2 separate regions of the Homo sapiens genome follow, and region 2 is linked to region 1. The links come from fine-mapping of genetic effects on gene expression. A gene starts in region 1. The other region holds a variant in brackets. All regions are shown on one strand. Distances are between the middles of the regions.

Evidence for each region. PIP is the estimated chance that this variant, and not a neighbour inherited with it, causes the effect.
Region 2: its variant is fine-mapped to the expression of C22orf23 in esophagus muscle (GTEx, PIP 0.95).

The regions. Positions count from the first base shown.
Region 1 is chr22:37,949,143-37,957,632 of GRCh38, forward strand. C22orf23 (chromosome 22 open reading frame 23) reads right to left here and starts at 4,459. Exons shown (of 7, transcript NM_032561.5): 1 at 4,306-4,459; 2 at 3,905-4,016; 3 at 2,318-2,380. The coding sequence starts at 4,007. It overlaps POLR2F (RNA polymerase II, I and III subunit F), which reads left to right and starts at 4,557. Exons shown (of 5, transcript NM_021974.5): 1 at 4,557-4,665; 2 at 7,631-7,700. The coding sequence starts at 4,646. RefSeq lists a silencer at 4,723-4,792.
Region 2 is chr22:38,075,174-38,083,663 of GRCh38, forward strand. It overlaps PICK1 (protein interacting with PRKCA 1), which reads left to right. Exons shown (of 13, transcript NM_012407.4): 13 at 1-528. It overlaps SLC16A8 (solute carrier family 16 member 8), which reads right to left. Exons shown (of 6, transcript NM_013356.3): 2 at 7,869-8,188; 3 at 7,487-7,708; 4 at 6,716-6,859; 5 at 5,667-6,506; 6 at 2,964-3,531. The coding sequence starts at 7,700. The coding sequence ends at 3,215. It overlaps LOC105373027 (a long non-coding RNA gene), which reads left to right and starts at 3,468. Exons shown (of 3, transcript XR_938249.3): 1 at 3,468-3,560; 2 at 3,681-3,774; 3 at 4,440-5,194. RefSeq lists enhancers at 1-288, 5,373-6,154 and a silencer at 7,470-7,519. The variant C/T (reference allele first, on the strand shown) is at 3,772.

The DNA of each region.
Region 1 (8,490 bases):
CTATCCCTCCTGCTGTCCATCCCCCCGCTTGGCCATCCCTGGGGCTTCTCCCCCAGGCGATCCAAGTGTGTCACCTGTCTGGTCAGTTGACCCCACCTCTCAACTGCCATAAAGCCCAGCTTAGAGCAGGTCCCATCCATTGTTTTTTTTTTTTTTTTTGAGACAGAGTCTCCCTCTGTTGCCCAGGCTGGAGTGCAGTGGCATGATCTTGGCTCTCTGCAACCTACACCTCCTGGGTACAAGCGATTCTTGTGCCTCAGTCTCCTGAGTAGCTGGGATTATGGTGTGTGCCACCACGCCTGGCTAATTTTTTTTTTTTTTTTTTTTTTTTTTGAGACAGAGTTTTGTTCTTGTCACCCAGGCTAGAGTGCAATGGTGTGATCTCAGCTCACTGCAACCTCCGCCTCCTGGGTTCAAGCTATTCTCCCGCTTCAGCTTCCCAAGTAGCTGGGACTACAGGCCCGGGTCACCACACCTGGCTAATTTTTGTATTTTTAGTAGGGGTGGAGTTTCACCATGTTGGCCAGGGTGGTCTTGAACTCCTGACTTTGGGTGATCTGCCTGTCTCGGCCTCTGAATGTGCTGGGATTACAGGCGTGAGCCACCGCACCTGGCTCATCCACTGTTTTGATCTGGGTGCCTGTCTACCTTTTCTGCCCATCCAGCCTCTACAAGGTCAATTCCCCAGGAGCGAGCGGTCAGAAGTATTAATTTTTTTGGTCACACACCCAAAAATTTTGCTGTAGAGAGAGGTTTCACTGTGTTGCCCAGGCTGGCCTTGAACTCCTGGGCTCATGTGATTCTCCTGCCTCAGCTTCCTGAGTAGCTGGGACTACAGGTACACCCCAGTATGTATGTGTTTTGCCAGGCTGGTCTTGAACTCTTGGGCTCAAGCAATCCTCCTGCCTTAGCCTCCCAAAGTGATAGGATTATAGGTATAAGCCACCACAGCTGACCTGTTTTTTTTTATTTTTTATTTTTTGTTTTTGAGACGATGTCTTGCTCTGTCACCCACACTGGAGTGCAGTGGTATGGTCTCGGCTCGCTGCACCCTCTGCCTGCTGGGTTCAAGTGATTTTCCTGCCTCAGCCTCCTGAGTAGCTGGTATTACAGGCATCCGCCATCATGCCCAGCTAATTTTTGTATTGGCATAGAGACAGGGTTTTACCATGTTGGCCAGGCTGGTCTTGAACTCTTGACCTCAGGTGATCTGCCCGCCTCAGCCTCCCAAAGTGCTGGGATTACAGGTGTGAGCTCCCACACCCGGCCTGACCTGTTTTTATTTTAATTTAATTTTATTTTATTTTAATTATTTTGAGATTAGGCTCCACTCGGTCGCCCAGGCTGGAGTGCAGTGGTGCAATCACAGCTCATTGCAGCCTTGACCTCCCAGGGTCAAGTGATCCTCCCACCTCAACCTCCTGAGTAGCTGGGACTACAGGTTGGCACCACCACACCTGGCTAATTTTAAAAAATTTTGGGGGCTGGGTGCAGTGGCTCATGCCTGGAATCCCAGCACTTTGGGAGGCCGAGGCGGGCAGATCACGAGGTCAGGAGTTCGAGACCAGCCTGGCCAACATGGTGAAACCCAGTCTCTACTAAAAATACAAAAATTAAGCCGGGCATGGTGGCGCACGCCTGTAATCCTAGCTAGTCAGGATGCTGAGGCAGGAGAATTGCCTGAACCCAGGAGGCGGAGGTTGTAGTGAGCCGAGATCATGCCACTGCACTCCAGCCTGGGCGACAGAGAGAGAGACTCATCTCAAAACAAAACAAAACAAAAAAGTTGGCCAGGCGTGGTGGCTCACTCCTGTAGTCCCAGCACTTTGGGAGGCCGAGGTGGGCGGATCATGAGGTCAGGAGATCGAGACCATCCTGGCTAACACGATGAAACGCCGTCTCTACTAAAAATACAAAAAATTAGCCAGGCGTGGTGGTGGGCACCTATAGTCTCAGCTACTTGGGAGGCTGAGGCAGGAGAATGGCATGAACCCGGGAGGCAGAAGTTGCAGTGAGCCGAGATTGCGCCACTGCACTCCAGCCTGGGCGACAGAGTGAGACTCTGTCTCAAAAAAAAAAAAGGTTTTGTGGAGATGAGGTCTTGTGGCTTGTGGCGTTGCCCGGGCTGGTCTTGAACTCCTGGGCTTAAGCCATCCTCCCACCTCAGCCTCCCAGTGTTGGAATTACAGGCATGAGCCACGTGCCCGGCTGTCTTTGTTTTTTTTATATGAGGTCCTCTCTCCCTTAACATGGAGAAGCATTAAAAGTGTGGCCCCAGATCCCTCTGTCCAGGAAGCCTCTGTGGACTGCCCCTTACTTTTCATGATGTCCATGATGTGGCGCTGCTGGATGTTCGTCAGTTTGGATTCCTTCATCATCACTGCACGACAAAGCATTCTATGAGGCCTCTTGGGCTGCAGGCGGATGCCTTCACCTGACACCCTACTGAAATTTAAAACCCTACATCCTAGCCCCATTCTGCACTGAGCATGCCTTCTCTATCTTTCCTGCTTCGTTTTTTCTATAGCACTTACGACCACCTAAAATTCTATATATTTTATTTTATTGTTATCCTTCTATATTAGCTGTATGATAAGAATTTTTGCTGGTTTAATAAAATTTCTGCCCTCTGTTAAATATTTTTTCCTCTTTCTCTTTTTTTTTTTTTTTTTTTTTTTTTTTTTTTTTTTGAGATGGAGCTTCCATCTTGTTGCCCAGGCTGGAGTGCAGTGGCGCGACCTCAGCTCACTGCAATCTCCACCTCCTGGGTTCAAGGAATTCTCCTGCCTCAGCCTCCCAAGTAGCTGGGATTACAGACATGCGCCACCACGCCCGGCTAATTTTGTACTTTTAGTAGAGACTGGGTTTCTCCATGTTGGTCAGGCTGGTCGTGAACTCCTAACCTCAGGTGATCTGCCCACCTTGGCCTCCCAAAGTGCTGGGATTACCGGTTTGAGCCACCTCATTTTCTTTCACTGCTGTATCCCCAGCACCTAAAACAGAGTCTAAGGCACATGGTAGACTTAAAAATGTTGTTGTTGGAAAAAAACAAAAAAGTTGTTGAGTAAAAGAACACATGAATACTTGTTCATCATGTTTCAGGGGCTGGAGCTACAATTGTGGGCCGAAACAGGCACGGTTCCTGCCTGATGAAATTCATGATCTGGAGGGATAGATGGGACACCAAATAACTGACTACAGCTTGTGCTAAGCCCAGTGAAGGAAAATGTGTGAGGGCACATAACAGTTGATCCTACTGTGGTGGTGAGGAGCAGAAGTCTTCCTCGGGAAAGTTGAAAGTGTGATCTAAAGGATGCATAGGAGTTAACTACTCTAAAAATTTTAGTTCTTTGACTTTTGGCAAGGTGTAGCACCTTGAACCTTCCCCTCCCCCCCGCCCCGCCCCGCCCCCGAATAAGGCATATGCAGTAGAATTTTGAAGCTTTCTGAACCCCAGGCTCCTTATCTGTAAAGGAAAATAGTGCTAAGCCACAGGTCAGGTACGGGGGAACTGAGTTACAGAGGGTAACTACCACCATTCTTCTCTCATCCTTTAACTCAGGGGTCCCCAACCCTCCGTCCGTGGACTGGTACCAGTCCCTGGCCTGTTAGGAACCGGGCCGCACAGCAGGAGGTGAGCGGCAGGCTAGCGAGCCTCACCGCCTCCTTTCAGGTCAGTGACGGCCTTAGATTCTCATAGGAGCGCGAACCCTATTGTGAACTGCGCACGCGAGGGATCTAGGTTGCACGCTCCTTATGAGAATCTAACTAATACCTGATGATCTGAGGTGGAACAGTTTCATCCCGAAACCATTCCCCACACCTCCGTCAGTGGAAAAATTGTCTTCCACGAAACCGGTCCCTGGTGCCAAAAAGGCTGGGATCGCTGCTTTAACGGACTGACCTCTGAGCAGCTCGCAGGTCCCCGGGGTGTAAGTGATGGTCTTGGGGCGGCGCCGGAACCCAGTTCCTTTGGTCACTACCTCCATCTGCTTCTGTGAAGCCATGGGAGGACTCTGAGGAGGGAAAGACGCAATGACACACCCCCTGTCTCCTGTCCCTAATCTCTGTTCCCCGACGCCCAACACCCCCAGAAGTCTGGAAGCGGGGATCGAGCCAGAGAATGATGCCGCCAGTTAATATTGCGACAGTGCCCAAACCTCCCATCCAGACACACAGATACACACACACAGTCCTCATTCTGACCCAGCGCCTGTGGCAGGGAAGTCTCCTCGGGAGGGAGTGTTAACACAGCCATGGTCACAACAGTACCCACTGAGTGATATGCCAAAATTGAAATTTCACCCTAAGACCCTCTCTGGGTGCTCCCCTCTCCACATAGAAGTGGGCTCCCGGAGGCGGTGACCACTGCTTTACAGCCGCATCCGCACCGGTGCCACGCAGAAATACTGCGCGATCTGGGCTGCTGGAGCTGGCAGCTAGCGCCTCTCGCTACTATAGAAACGCGCACACACCAGTCAGCGCATGCGCACTTTCCCCGCTCTGTCCTGCCTCCCGGAAGTGATTTCCTCTGGGTTACGGCGCAGGCGCAAGATAAGCTAGGAGCCGCGCGAGTCGTAGTGTCGCTGTTTGCGGGTCTCCGCGCGGGACCGGGGCGCAGCGGGGTCGCTGAGGCGAGGGTGTCATGTCAGACAACGAGGACAAGTGAGTGCGGGAGCGGAGTGGCCTTTGCGGCAACCTTGGAAGGGGCGGATGAGGCAAGGCTTGGGTCGGCTGAGGAGCCTGGCGTCTAGGGGCAATGTCTGAGGGGACTGGGGTCCTGAGGGGGCCGGCGGAGCCGAGGAAGGGAAGGGCGGGCGACCCAGGAGCACAGCCCCGGCTGGAGGCACAGGAGGGCCCAGGCTCGAGGGTCCAGAGGGGATCCGTAGAAAAGGTGTCCTTCAGCAAATGTTCCAGCGAGCCGGGCTCTGTATCATGCAGTGGGAATATTGAGGTGAATGAACAATCGTCCCTGCCTCTCCACGTGCTCACTTTCTAGAAAAGGGGTCACAGGCCCATAAGTAAGCAAGCAAGCAGGTAACGGTGGTCGCGTGAGCTTCCCCAGTTCTAGACGTATGTAGTATAGGAGTACTCCAGAGGAGGGTCTGGGGCAGCTCCACCGGGTGGCATTAAATAAAAGTCTGGGACGGTCCTTTGCAGTAATTTTTTTTTTTTTTTGAAACAGAGTCTTGCTCTGTCGCCCAGGCTGGAGTGCAGTGGCGCGATCTCGGCTCACTGCAGCCTCCACCTCCGGGGTTCAAGGGATTCTCCTGCCTCAGCCTCCCGACTAGCTGGGATTATGGGCGTGCACCACCACGCCTTGCTAATTGCTTGTAGTTTTAGTAGAGACGGGTTTCACCATGTTGGCCAGACTGGCCTCGAACTCCTGAGCTTGTGATCCACCCGCCTCGGCCTCCCAAAGTGCTGGGATCACAGGCGTGAGCCACCGTGCCCGGCCTGCTTGTAGTAATCTAGATGAGAGAAGTCAGTAGCTTATAGTAGGGTGGTAGGAGTAGAGGTGGTGAGAACTGGTTTTGAATTCTGGATATATTACTATTTTAAAGATAGAGCCCAAAAATTACCTGTGGGATATGTGGGTGCAAAGAGAGCTAGTCTGAAGATAAAAATAAGAAACGTGTGGGATTGCTACCCCATTCCCAGTGAGTGTCAGTAGAGAAGAGGAGATGACCCGTGGCTGAGCATTAGGGCATTTGGACATTGAGTGCTTGGGGGAAAAGAGAAGCCGGGGAGGTGGGGGAACACCAAGAGGGTGAGGTGTCCTTGGAGTCAAGTGAGGAGAGCAAGTGGCCTAATGTGCCAGCTGATAGATCAGGCTAAATGAGAAGGAGAGTTGGCCATTGGATTTAGCAACGTGGAGATCATTAATGAGCTTGGAAAGTGGTTTTGATGGAGCTGTTGGGGTGAAAGGCTTTTTGGAGTGAGATTATGACAAAATGGGAAGAGAGGAAGATAGTGAGGGTGGACAGCTCTTTCACACATTTTTGCTTCAAAGGACACCATGGAATTAGGGCTATAGGGGGAGAGAGAAGAGAAATAAGGGTTTTTTTTTTTTTTTTTTTAGATGAGGAAAAGCACATGTTGAAATGCTGATGGGGCCGGGTGCTGTGGCTTACACCTCTAATCCCAGCACTTTGGGAGGCCGAGGAGGGTGGATCACCTGAGGCCAGGAGTTCGAGACCAGCCTGGTCAACATGGTGAAACCCCATCTTTACTAAAAATACAAAAATTAGCTGGGCATGGTGGCGTGTGCCTATAATCCCAGCTACTCGGGAGGCTGAGACAGGAGAATTGCTTGAACCCAGGAGGCAGAGGTTGCAGTGAGCCAAGATCACGCCATTGCACTCCATCCTGGACAACAGAGCGAGACTTTGTCTCAAAAAAAAAAAAAATGCTGATGGGAATGATCCAGTAGAGAGGGAAACAGTGATGATGAATGAGTACTAGCAATATTTGGGGGCAGATGGGGAAAAATTGAAGGGGTAAAATGGAACAAAAGTCGGATTTACTTCTTCTTCTTATTATTATTTTTTATTTTTTGAGAAGGAGTCTCGCTGTGTCACCCAGGCTGGAGTGCAGTGGGGTGACCGTGGCTCAGTGCACCCTCCGCCTCTCGGGTTCAAGCAATTCTTGTGCCTCAGCCTCCTGAGTAGCTGGGATTACAGGCGCCCACCACCACACCCGGCTAATTTTTTTGTATTTTTAGCAGAGACGAGATTTCTCCATGTTGGCCAGGCTGGTCTTGGACTCCTGACCTCAAGTGATGCACCCACCTCGGCCTCTCAAAGTGCTGGGATTACAGACGTGAGCCACTGCACTCAGCTGATTTACTTATTAAGTAAATATTTATTGAGTGCTTCCTACATACTGGGCGAGACACAGATCTCTGCCCTCTTTGATTTTTTTTTTGTTTGTTTTTTGTTTTGCGGTGGCGGGGGGGGGTTTTGAGACGGAGTTTCACTCTTGTTGCCCAGGCTGGAGTGCAATGGCGTGATCTCAGCTCACCACAACCTCCGCCTCCTGGGTTCAAGTGATTCTCCTGCCTCAGCCTCCCAAGTAGTTGGGATTACAGGCATGTGCCACCACCACTCCCGGCTAATTTTGTATTTTTAGTAGAGACGGGGTTTCATCATGTTGGTCAGGCTGGCCTTGAACTCCACCCGCCTTGGCCTCCCAAAGTGCTGGGATTACAGGCTTAATCCCAGAGCCACAATACAAAGCCACCATGCCCGGCCTCTGAATTTTTTTTTTTTTTAATTTTTCTTATTTATTTTGAGACAGGTTCTTGTTCTGTCACCCATGCTGGAGTACAGTGGTGCAATCTTGGCTCACTGCAACCTCCACCTCCTGGGTTCAAGCAATTCTTGTGACTCAGCCCCCCAAGTAGCTGGTATTACAGACATGTGCCACCATGCCCGGCTAATTTTTGTATTTTTAGTAGAGATGGGGTTTTGCCTTGTTGGCCAGGCTGGTCTTGAATTCCTGGCCTCAAGTGATCCGCCCACTTCAATCTCCGAAAGTACCAGGATTACAAGTGTGATCCACCGTGCCTGGCCCCTCTTTGATTCTTTTAAGTGATGCTCTAAGTAACTGATCTCTTCTTCCTGTACAGTTTTGATGGCGACGACTTTGATGATGTGGAGGAGGATGAAGGGCTAGATGACTTGGAGAATGCCGAAGAGGTCAGTATTCAGCCTCAGGCTCCCACCTCTGCAGCCCAAGCTGCCAAATCGTCTGACAGGTGATGATTAGCTGAATGTGTCTGCCTTCTATTTGTGGTCAAGGCCCCTGCCATAAGCATTCCCAGTTAGAGTGAGCTGTGTTCCAGTCTTGCATAGCAGAACAGCCCTGCAGGGTGGGCCTGAAAGCTTTTGTCCATGTGGTCCACAGCCTGTGGCTTCTGGGGCAGTTAGTTCACTGACAAGTTAAACGGTGCCTTCCTTCATTTGGCAAACATGTGTTGAATGTTTATTATATGCCAGGTGCTTTCTGCTGGGTGGGACTGCTTAAGGAGCAAAGGGAAGAGGTAAGCAGGGCTCAGATGAGGCAGTATTTTGTAGCCTAAAGGCAATGGGAAGCTACTGACAAACTTTGAGCCAGGGCACAGTCCAGGTTACATTTTAGAAAGTACATTCCTGCCTCGAGTAAGGAGTGAACTGGGGAAGGGCAAGAGTGAAAGGTGAGAGGCCTGTGGCTTGGACATAGGTGCTGGTAGTGCAGGTGATGAGAAGGCAGATAAAAGAGTTATTTCGGTGGGTTGGTTATGGGGCTGAGAAAGTGAGTGGTGACGAGGACGACTCTCAGGTTTCTGGCTTGAGCAACTAGGTGGATAGGTTGCCAGCCTCAAGAGGAAAGTAGGGCTTTCTGTCTTGTGTGACTGATGAGGGAAAAAATGCAGTTATGTTCTGGAGAGACATGGAGCCTTCTCTCTCTCTGCATGGCACTTTCAGATACCTTTTCACTTGAGTCAGA
Region 2 (8,490 bases), 130 kb after region 1:
GACGGAGCCTGGGAGCGGGGCGGGGCCGCCGCGCAAGGGGGCGACGCATAAAGGCCTGCTGGCTTGGGGCGCCTGCCTCCCTGCTCCTCTGTCCTCGCACAGCGAACCTGGGCTCCTGCCCAGGACAGGCACCAGGGTCATGGCCTGGGACCTGGACACTGGCCCCTCCACCCTCCCTCCCCTCCCGGCTCCCCGGCCAGAGGGAGAGCTTGGTCTCTGGACCTGCCTTAGGAAGGAGAGGGAGGGCAGGAAGGAAAAGAAAGGACTTGGAGGTGGCAGGAGTCCGAGCCCTGCTCCTTGTGGGCGCTCACACTGCCCCCGGAGCCTGCTGGGAGTGGGGCCAGCCGTGGACAGCTGAGGTTGGGGTCAATGCCTCCTGGGCACCCTTGCCTCGCCCCAGACCGGCCCGTCCAGTCCCCATCACACCTCGGCGGCCTTTATTTATTCTGTTCCCCCAGCTCGGCCACTTCTCTGAAGGAGGGCTGGGTTCTGGGCCTGTATCGAATAAACACAAACCTGGATGGCGCAGTGGTCGCAGTGGCTTCAGACCCTCCTTGTCTGCCCCTCCCCTCCACCGTCTATTGACAGCGCCCTTGCTATGCACCATTTATGCCTCACTGAAGTGTTGCAGGGCTAGCACTGTGGTCCCCTCACAGCTGGTGATTTGAGGCTCAGAGAAAGATCTTGCCCAAGGCCACGCCCTGTGTGGGGACACAGTGGGTTTTAACTCAGATCTGTCCTGAAGGCCTGACTTTGCCACCTGCCTCCAAAGCTTTCTGCTTTGTGGAACCTTTTGTATCTCACCCCCCGCCCCCTTCCCCCGCCCCCAATCTGTGACCTTTCTGTGCTTCCGACAGGAAATAAACCTCTGGGGGAGAGAAGGGCAGACATGGAGCCAGGGCGACTGAGCCCCCAAGTAGGGGAGGGTGGTGAGGGGTAAGTGCTGACTCCAGGCGCGCCTGTGCTGCCCGGGTGGTGGGGAAAGGCGTGTGGGGAGAGGTGCTCGGGGGCTGTGGGAAGAGGGGCGTGGGGAGAGGCCATGGGGAGTGTCTGCAGAGTGGCAGAAACAGGGTGGCCACTTCTCCTGCTTCTCCTGGCCAGCCTCGGCCTGGTGTAATCAGTCATAGTGGCCCTTGTCACTCTAACGTGTTCCTGTTTGGACGATGAATATGGCCATCCTGAGAATGCGAGGGGGCAACAGGGTGTGCGAGGTGGGCTGAGTCCAGGATGGAAAAAGGGTTTCTGCATCAGCTTTGAGCATGCATTGCTGGGCAGAAACCCAAATGGGAGGCTTGGCAGGGGTGGGACATGGAGGAGGGGCTGGCTGTCACCAGGAGCCCACCTGGGTCCCCGCAGAGCCATCAGACAGACCACACTGCCTCCCTGAAGGGGGCAGCCAGAGTGGAGGCCAAGAGCACAGGCTGGAACTGACAGCCTGGGTTCGTTCCTGACCTCCCTGGGCCTCAATTTCCCTATCTGAAGTGTGGCACCTACCTTATTGGCTTGTTAGGAGATTAAATGAACATCTGGAGAGGGCTTAGAACAGGGCTTGGCACAGAGCAAGCACTCTTAAATCTTAAATAAAGTCAGACGGGCCGGGAGCGGTGGCTCACGCCTGTAATCCCAGCACTTTGGGAGGCCAAGGCGGGCGGATCACGAGGTCAGGAGATCGAGACCATCCTGGCTAACACGGTGAAACCTCGTCTCCACTAAAAATACAAAAAATTAGCCAGGCGTGGTGGCGGGGGCCTGTAGTCCCAGCTGCTGGGGAGGCTGAGACAGGAGAATGGTGTGAACCTGGGAGGCAGAGCTTGCAGTGAGCCGAGATTGTGCCACTGCACTCCAGCCTGGGCAACAGAGCGAGACTCCATTTCAAAAAAATAAATAAAAAATAATAATAATAAAGTCAAACGCAGTCACTGCTCTAGTGGTGCAGGGGAAGCCACAGGCCATATAAGTAGAAGCCGGCCAGGCATCTGTGGGGCTCCCCAGACCTTCCTGGGGCCTAGATGGAAAATGAGGGCCAGCAGGGACCAGTGGGGAGGGGTCACTATGGGCCGGGCTGGAAGGTGAGGGGAGTTTGCGGAGGGAAGGCGGCTTCCTCTGCAGGGGCCTGTTCACCACGCTCATGATTCGGAGGGAGGCAAAGAAAGGAGGGGTGTGATGTATGGGAGGAGGATAAATGCATAGAGGGAATACATCGCGTCTTGCCAGATTCGTGCACCTGGATCCAAGTGCAGGAGGTCAGATGTCAAAGTGTGAGGGAGATCGTGGGACGCTCCGTGGGGAGAAGGCAGGTGCTGGGATCAGCAGATGACCTGGCTGCCAGCACAGTGTCCACAGCAAAAGCCCCTGGCCCTGGACACCCAAGTTTATCCTCTAGTGGGAGAGATGCCCTCTGGGAAGGTGAGGGGACATGGCCACCTCGTGGAAGGCAGCAGGGCCCATGGTGTTACTGAGCGCCTGGTCCCACCCTCCCCAGGACCCCAGGGGACGGAGTCGTATGCTCAGCCTCCAGTGAGCAAGGAAGTCAGCGGGGCTGGGATTCAAACCGACCCTGACCCTGGGAACTGTGAGTCTTCTCAGACCGCTCGGGCCCCCCGCCTGCAGGCAGACCCCAACCTTGAACCCTAGTTGCTGCCAACCCCTCGTTCCCTCCACGGGAAAAGGCAGATGCCAGCGAGGGGGCCTTCAGCAGACAGCTCTGAGCAGTGGGGCTGGGCAGGAGCCAGGCACTGTGCCCACCCAGCCCTGTGCCCCTGAGCCCTGTGCCCGCCCAGCCCCTTGTGTCTCTACACCTGGGAACGATGGGTCTCTTCATCCATCTCTGACGCTTCCTCCCAACACTGCCCACCTAGAAGCCTGCTTAGGGGGCCTGGAGAGAGACCTCCCAGACTCCCTCCCACCACCCTGACCCCCAACTCAGGTGGCAGCCGGAGCCTGGGCGGAGGAATAGAACCTTCTGTCGTTCAGCTGAGCTTTATCACCAGTTTCCTGTTGCTCCATAGCAGCTTCACTGGCGATGGGGCAGGGCCTGGCGGAACTTGGGGCACAGATGAGGGAGGCAGTTCCCAGACACCCAGGGGATCAACTGGAGCCCAGACGTGGACCCCGGGAGTGACCACCCCAGACCAGCCTCCCAGCGTACCAGGCTCTCTGAGACAAGAAGCTGTGTTCCCAAGTCACTGGGCCACCCCACCCAGAGCACCCTGAGTTATACAGACTCGGCAGCCAGCCTCGGCCTCGCCTCTATTTCTGGTTCTGTGGGCTCGCCCCGGGCGCTGAGCACCTCCAGGGCCTCCAGGTTGCCGGGTTCCTCTGCAACAACAGGCAGGGGCTCAGAGTCCCCTTCAGCCTCAGCGTCCTCAGTGTCACTGGCTCCGCCCTCAGTGCCTGGGCCTGACGGGGCAGCTTTAGCACAACGCAGGCAGCAGTTGGTGGCGACAGCCATGAAGACCCCAGCCAGGGCCACCTCAGAGCCGGCCAGGTAGAAGATGATCTCATAGTTCTTCAACACATCCACCAGGCGGCCTGGGGAGGAGGAGGAAGAGGAGGGAGAGGTAAGGTCCTGTGGGGTCCTCCCCTCACTCTCCTGCACTCTCAGGTCAAGGGTGGTGCCACTGACTTGGTGAGGCTCCTGGGTGACACACACATGCCCACTCTTTATTCCTGTTTTACAGATGTAAAACCTCATGTGGATTCTGCCATTTGAAACCTTAAAAATGTCACTTGCTGTCCCTGGACCTCAATTGCTTAAGTGATATGTGGCTT[C/T]TGGTGAGGCGTCCCCTCCACCCTCTGATTCAAGCCCCACAAGTGTCCTGTGACTTGCTTGGCAGTGGGGTATCTGGGGTGGGAGCGGGGAGGGGGCCCTGGGCTTAGCTCTGCCCTCCTGGGGGCCTCCACCTCTTGCTGTTGCCATGTAAATGCCCTGGTCCTCAGGGGCTTGGCTTAGTCCTCCCACCCCTCTGTCCCAGGAGGCCCATGAGCATCCCAGACCAAGCCATCATCGGCACAGGTGGGGCTTGTGGGCCAGTAACTCATTTCCTTCTCTATTTCTCAAGGCTTCTATCCCTTGTAGATACTACTTTCAAACTCAGGAAAGTCTCTCTTTTATTATGTTTTTTTTAGGGATGGGGTCTTGCTGTGTTGCCCAGGCTGGTCCTGAACTCCTGAGCTCAAGGGATCCTCCCGACTTGGCCTCTCAAAGTGCTGGGATTACAGGTGTGAACCACTGCACCTGGCTTCAGGAATTTTCTTATTCTTTTGAGACAGGGTCTCACTCCATTGGCCCAGGCTGGAATGTAGTGGTGCCATCTTGGCTCACTGCAACCTCCACCTCCTGGGCTCAAGCCATCCTCCCACTTCAGCCTCCTGAGTAGCTGGAACCAGAGGTGCACGCCACCACACCTAGCTAATTTTGTTTTGTTTTGTTTTGGTAGAGACAGGGTTTTGCCATGTTGCCCCGGCTGGTTTCAGACTTCTGGCCTCAGCCCCCCAAAGCGCTGGGATTACATGCATGAGCCACTACACCCGACCAGGAAAATCTCTTAATTGCAAGTATTTCCCCCTAAAGTGTGGTTTGTCTGTGTGCTCCACCCTCTCTCTAGGTCATTCTCCTCACCCCATGCACCTCCTCTGCCCATCAGATCCATCCAGATTCACACAAGAAATGGAAGACGGTTCCTTGAGGCCTGGGCAGGCTGGTTTTGTGGCCTGCCCACACACTGGCTCAGGGACTTTGCCGTTCTCACTGGGTCAGGTGGGATGACAGAGCTCAGTGAGGGCACTCGATTAGCCCAGCCCTGAAGGAAGGACGAGCAGCTCACCCCATCTCAGTGCAGCCTGCGGCCCCCGCAAGGTGTCCTCCCTGGTTACTGCACCATCTCACAGCCCTCTAGCCTCTGGGACTCAAAGGCAGGCTCCCTTGCTGTTTCAAGATAACTTGACAACCCAGGAAAACCCTCATGTCCCCCACTCCCACCTTTCCAATTTTGGTTCCTGCCTTGCTTGCATAAGGACGCTGTTCCCCCCCAACAAGCCCTGCCCATCCATGCTGTGCCTTCACCTGGGGGATATTCCAGGAAGCCTTCCCTGACCACCCTCATGACGATGACTTCCTAAGGGTGACGGTGACAAGTGCCAGCAGGCCATCTGCACAGTGAAAGACACCAGTGCTTCTCCCCATCTGCCCGCTGAGCACCCCCACTCTGTTTCTGGCCCCAACACCAGTTTCCCAAAGATACTGTCCCCATTCCAGTCACCATTCTAGATGCACCATTCTAAAGGCGTGGGCATTTAGCAGCAGGTACACTGAGGCTCTCATTCTGGGGCTGCAACTTGCGCTAAGGCTTTGTGCCTCAGTTTCCTCATCTGCAAAATGAGAATAAGCACCTGCGCTCCAGATGGCCTTGTGCCAACTGCTTGGGATGGCAGATCTGGCCAGCTACCAGTGTTGCTTTCTTCCCTGCACCTTCCTGGGCTTTTCTGTCCTCACCCAGAGCGGGCGGTCCGGCTTGGAGGAGGGACTAACTGGCCGTGAAGGGGAGTCCACCCACCCGACTGCCCCTTCCCCTCATCCCTGGAAGTTCCATCTGAGACAGGGGGATGGAGCTTCCCTGGGTCTAAGGGGCACTAGGCTCGCCACCCCCTCTTCCTTCGGGGCGCACCGGCAGAGGGCGGTCCGATGAGCACAGCCGCGGCCTCCACGAGCAACACCAGGCCCAGCGCACTGGGGAAGCGGGGCGCGCCCACAGCCGCCATGAGCACCTCGAACTGCAGCGCGCCCACCATGCCGTAGGAGAGGCCGAAGGCGACGCAGAAGGCGACGAGGGCGCCGTAGGAGCGCGCGCGTGCGCTGCTCAGGTCTGTGAGCCCATTGGCCAGCAGGGCCAGGCTGAACAGATACGGGACGTGCGGCCGCAGACGCGCCAGGCCCGCCAGGGCGCCGCACGCCGGGCGCGCCACGATGTCCACGAAGCCCACGATGGACAGCAGGAAGGCGGCGTCGGTGTCGGGCACGCCCGCGTCCTTGGCGTAGTTCACCAGCAGGATGGCGGGGACGAAGAGCCCGAGCGCCATCAGGAACTTGGTGACGGCGTACACGGCGAAGGCGCGGTCGGTGCACACTGCCAAGTCCAGCAGGCGCCGGCGGGGCCGGACCCTGGGGGATGCCTCGCGCAGCTGCAGCCCCGCACCGTCAGCCTCCGCCTCGCCCGGAGCGTCCCCGGCGCGGTCGCCGGCGCTGTCCCTGCGCGGTCGCGGGCCCGGCCCGGGCGGCGGCCTCATGACAGCCCCGCAGGCGCAGCAGTGCAGCAGGAGCCCGCCGAGCAGCAGGAAGCCGCCGCGCCAGCCGAAGCGCTCCAGCAGCTGCTGGCCGAGCGGCGACAGCGCGGACAGGAACACGGGGCTGCCCGCCGCCGCCAGCCCGTTGGCCAGAGGCCGCCGCCGCTCGAAGTACAGCCCCAGCATGATGAGCGACGGCTGGAAGTTGAGGGCCAGGCCCAGGCCTGCGGGCGAGGCGGTGCTGTGCCGGGGTCCCCGGAGAGCCCCTCCCTGGCCCCCACAGGAGGGAGGGGCCAGGCCCGGGAACCCAGCAGATCCGGGAACCCAGCCGAGGGACTTCGAAGACTGTCCCTCATAGGGAAACCGAGGACAGATCTTGCAGCAAGAACCCCCGACCCCCAACCCAGCGGAGAGGAGACCAGGGGGCCCTCACCTGTGAGCACCCCAGCGGTCAGGTAGAGCTCCAGGAGGCGCGTGGCAAAGGAAGCTAGGATCATGCCCGCGGAAGCCAGCAGCCCACCCGCCAGCATCACCGGGCGACAGCCAAAGCGGGTCACGAGGATGCTGGACACGGGGCCTGTGGGCAGGGCAGGGTCACCACCCGGGTCCCGGGATGGCTTGAGTCCTCTAAGGAATAAGGTCACCTCCGGCTCAGGGACACAGAGAGGAGGGCAGTGTCTGGCCAAGGTCACACAGCTTGGAGGGGACAGGCCAAAGAGACAGCATCCTGCGAGGGCAAGGCCCAGAGCACCCCATCCTGCGAACCCAAACCCCAAGCGGAGCGGGGGCTTCCGCACCCCTTTAACCTTCACAGCCTCCAAGTCCCGCCCTGGCACAGACTGGGATTCCTCCGCAGCCCCGCCTCCCAGGATGGGAACTCCAGCAAGCCCCCACCTACAGGTCAGGGCTGCGGGGAGGGGGAGTGCTTCTGTGGCTCTCAGCTTTCCTGCCTCTACAATGGGCGGGTGTGGTCTTAGAAGGGGCCCTCTGAGCTCGCAGGGCAGCCCCCTGGGCCGGCCCCGCCTCTGGCCGCTGTCTCCCTCCCGCCCTCTCTTCCCCTCTTTCTGGTGCCAGGGTTCCCACAGGCAGGAAGGGACTTCGGGGGCCACCCCGAGGGTCAGGGGGATGCTCAGGGGCTCGGGTGTCTCCTGGTTCCGGATCCCAGGGGTCCCGGGGAGGCGGAGGGCCGGGCGGGGACACTGACCCGTGCCGTAGAGCATGGCTAGCATGATGGAGGACACCCAGGCCGTGTCGCTGTAGCCGGCGTCGAAGTCGCGCATGAGCGCGCGGAAGAAGACGCTCACGGCTTTGGGGAAGCCGTAGGCGAAGCCGGTGACCACAAAGCAGGCGCCCAGCACCACCCAGCCCCAGCCGCCGTCTGGGGGGCCCTCGCCCCGCCGGGGGCCGCCAGCGCCCATCGCTGCCTCTGTTGGGAGGGGGCGGGGACAAGAGGGAGGGGCTGGGCCAGCAGCCTAGAGAAGGAGGGGGATGGAGACGAAGCATGGGGAAACTGAGGCACAGGGCTACCCACGTGAGGGTGGCTCAGGTCTGGGAACCAAAAGGGGAAACGGAGGTAGGACTCTCACCCCAAGTCTCCTTCTCCTGCAAAGGGCGCTGAAGGACGAGGGGAGGACGACGGGTCCCACCTGACTCTGCACCTCTGCAGGCTCCCTCTGAAGGACAACTGCTGGCCCCTCAGGGCCTCAGGTGGAAGGCGTCGGGAAGTGGAGCAGGTATGTGCCTGGAGGTGGGCGTCCAGCACCAAAGTCGCCCCGTACGCGTGAGGGTCTCGGGACAACAGAACAAACAGCAGAGGGGCAGATGCCGGCTGCAAAGGGCCGCTGTGCGTGATTTTCCTCTTTAGCCTTCCGCCATGTTCCTAATGTTTCTCAGTGATCACAAATGACTATTGTCATTAGAACATTAAGGGGACAAAAGCCACTTTCAACAGATATCAGCCAGGGGAGCTGAGTTCCCATGCATCTCAGCTCAGCCATGGATTCCCTCCCTGACTTGGGCCGGTCGCCTCCCCTCTCCCAACCTCCCTTTCCTCCGATGTAAGATGGGTGATTGATCACCCCGAGGCCAGCTGGGAATCTTGCGGGAGAGGAGTCAGGTCTCTGGCTTCTGCCAGACAGGTAGGAACCTTAGCAGCACTGAGAGAGTGGCCTTCTGCCCTCCAAACCTCAAACCCTCTATATGAAAAGA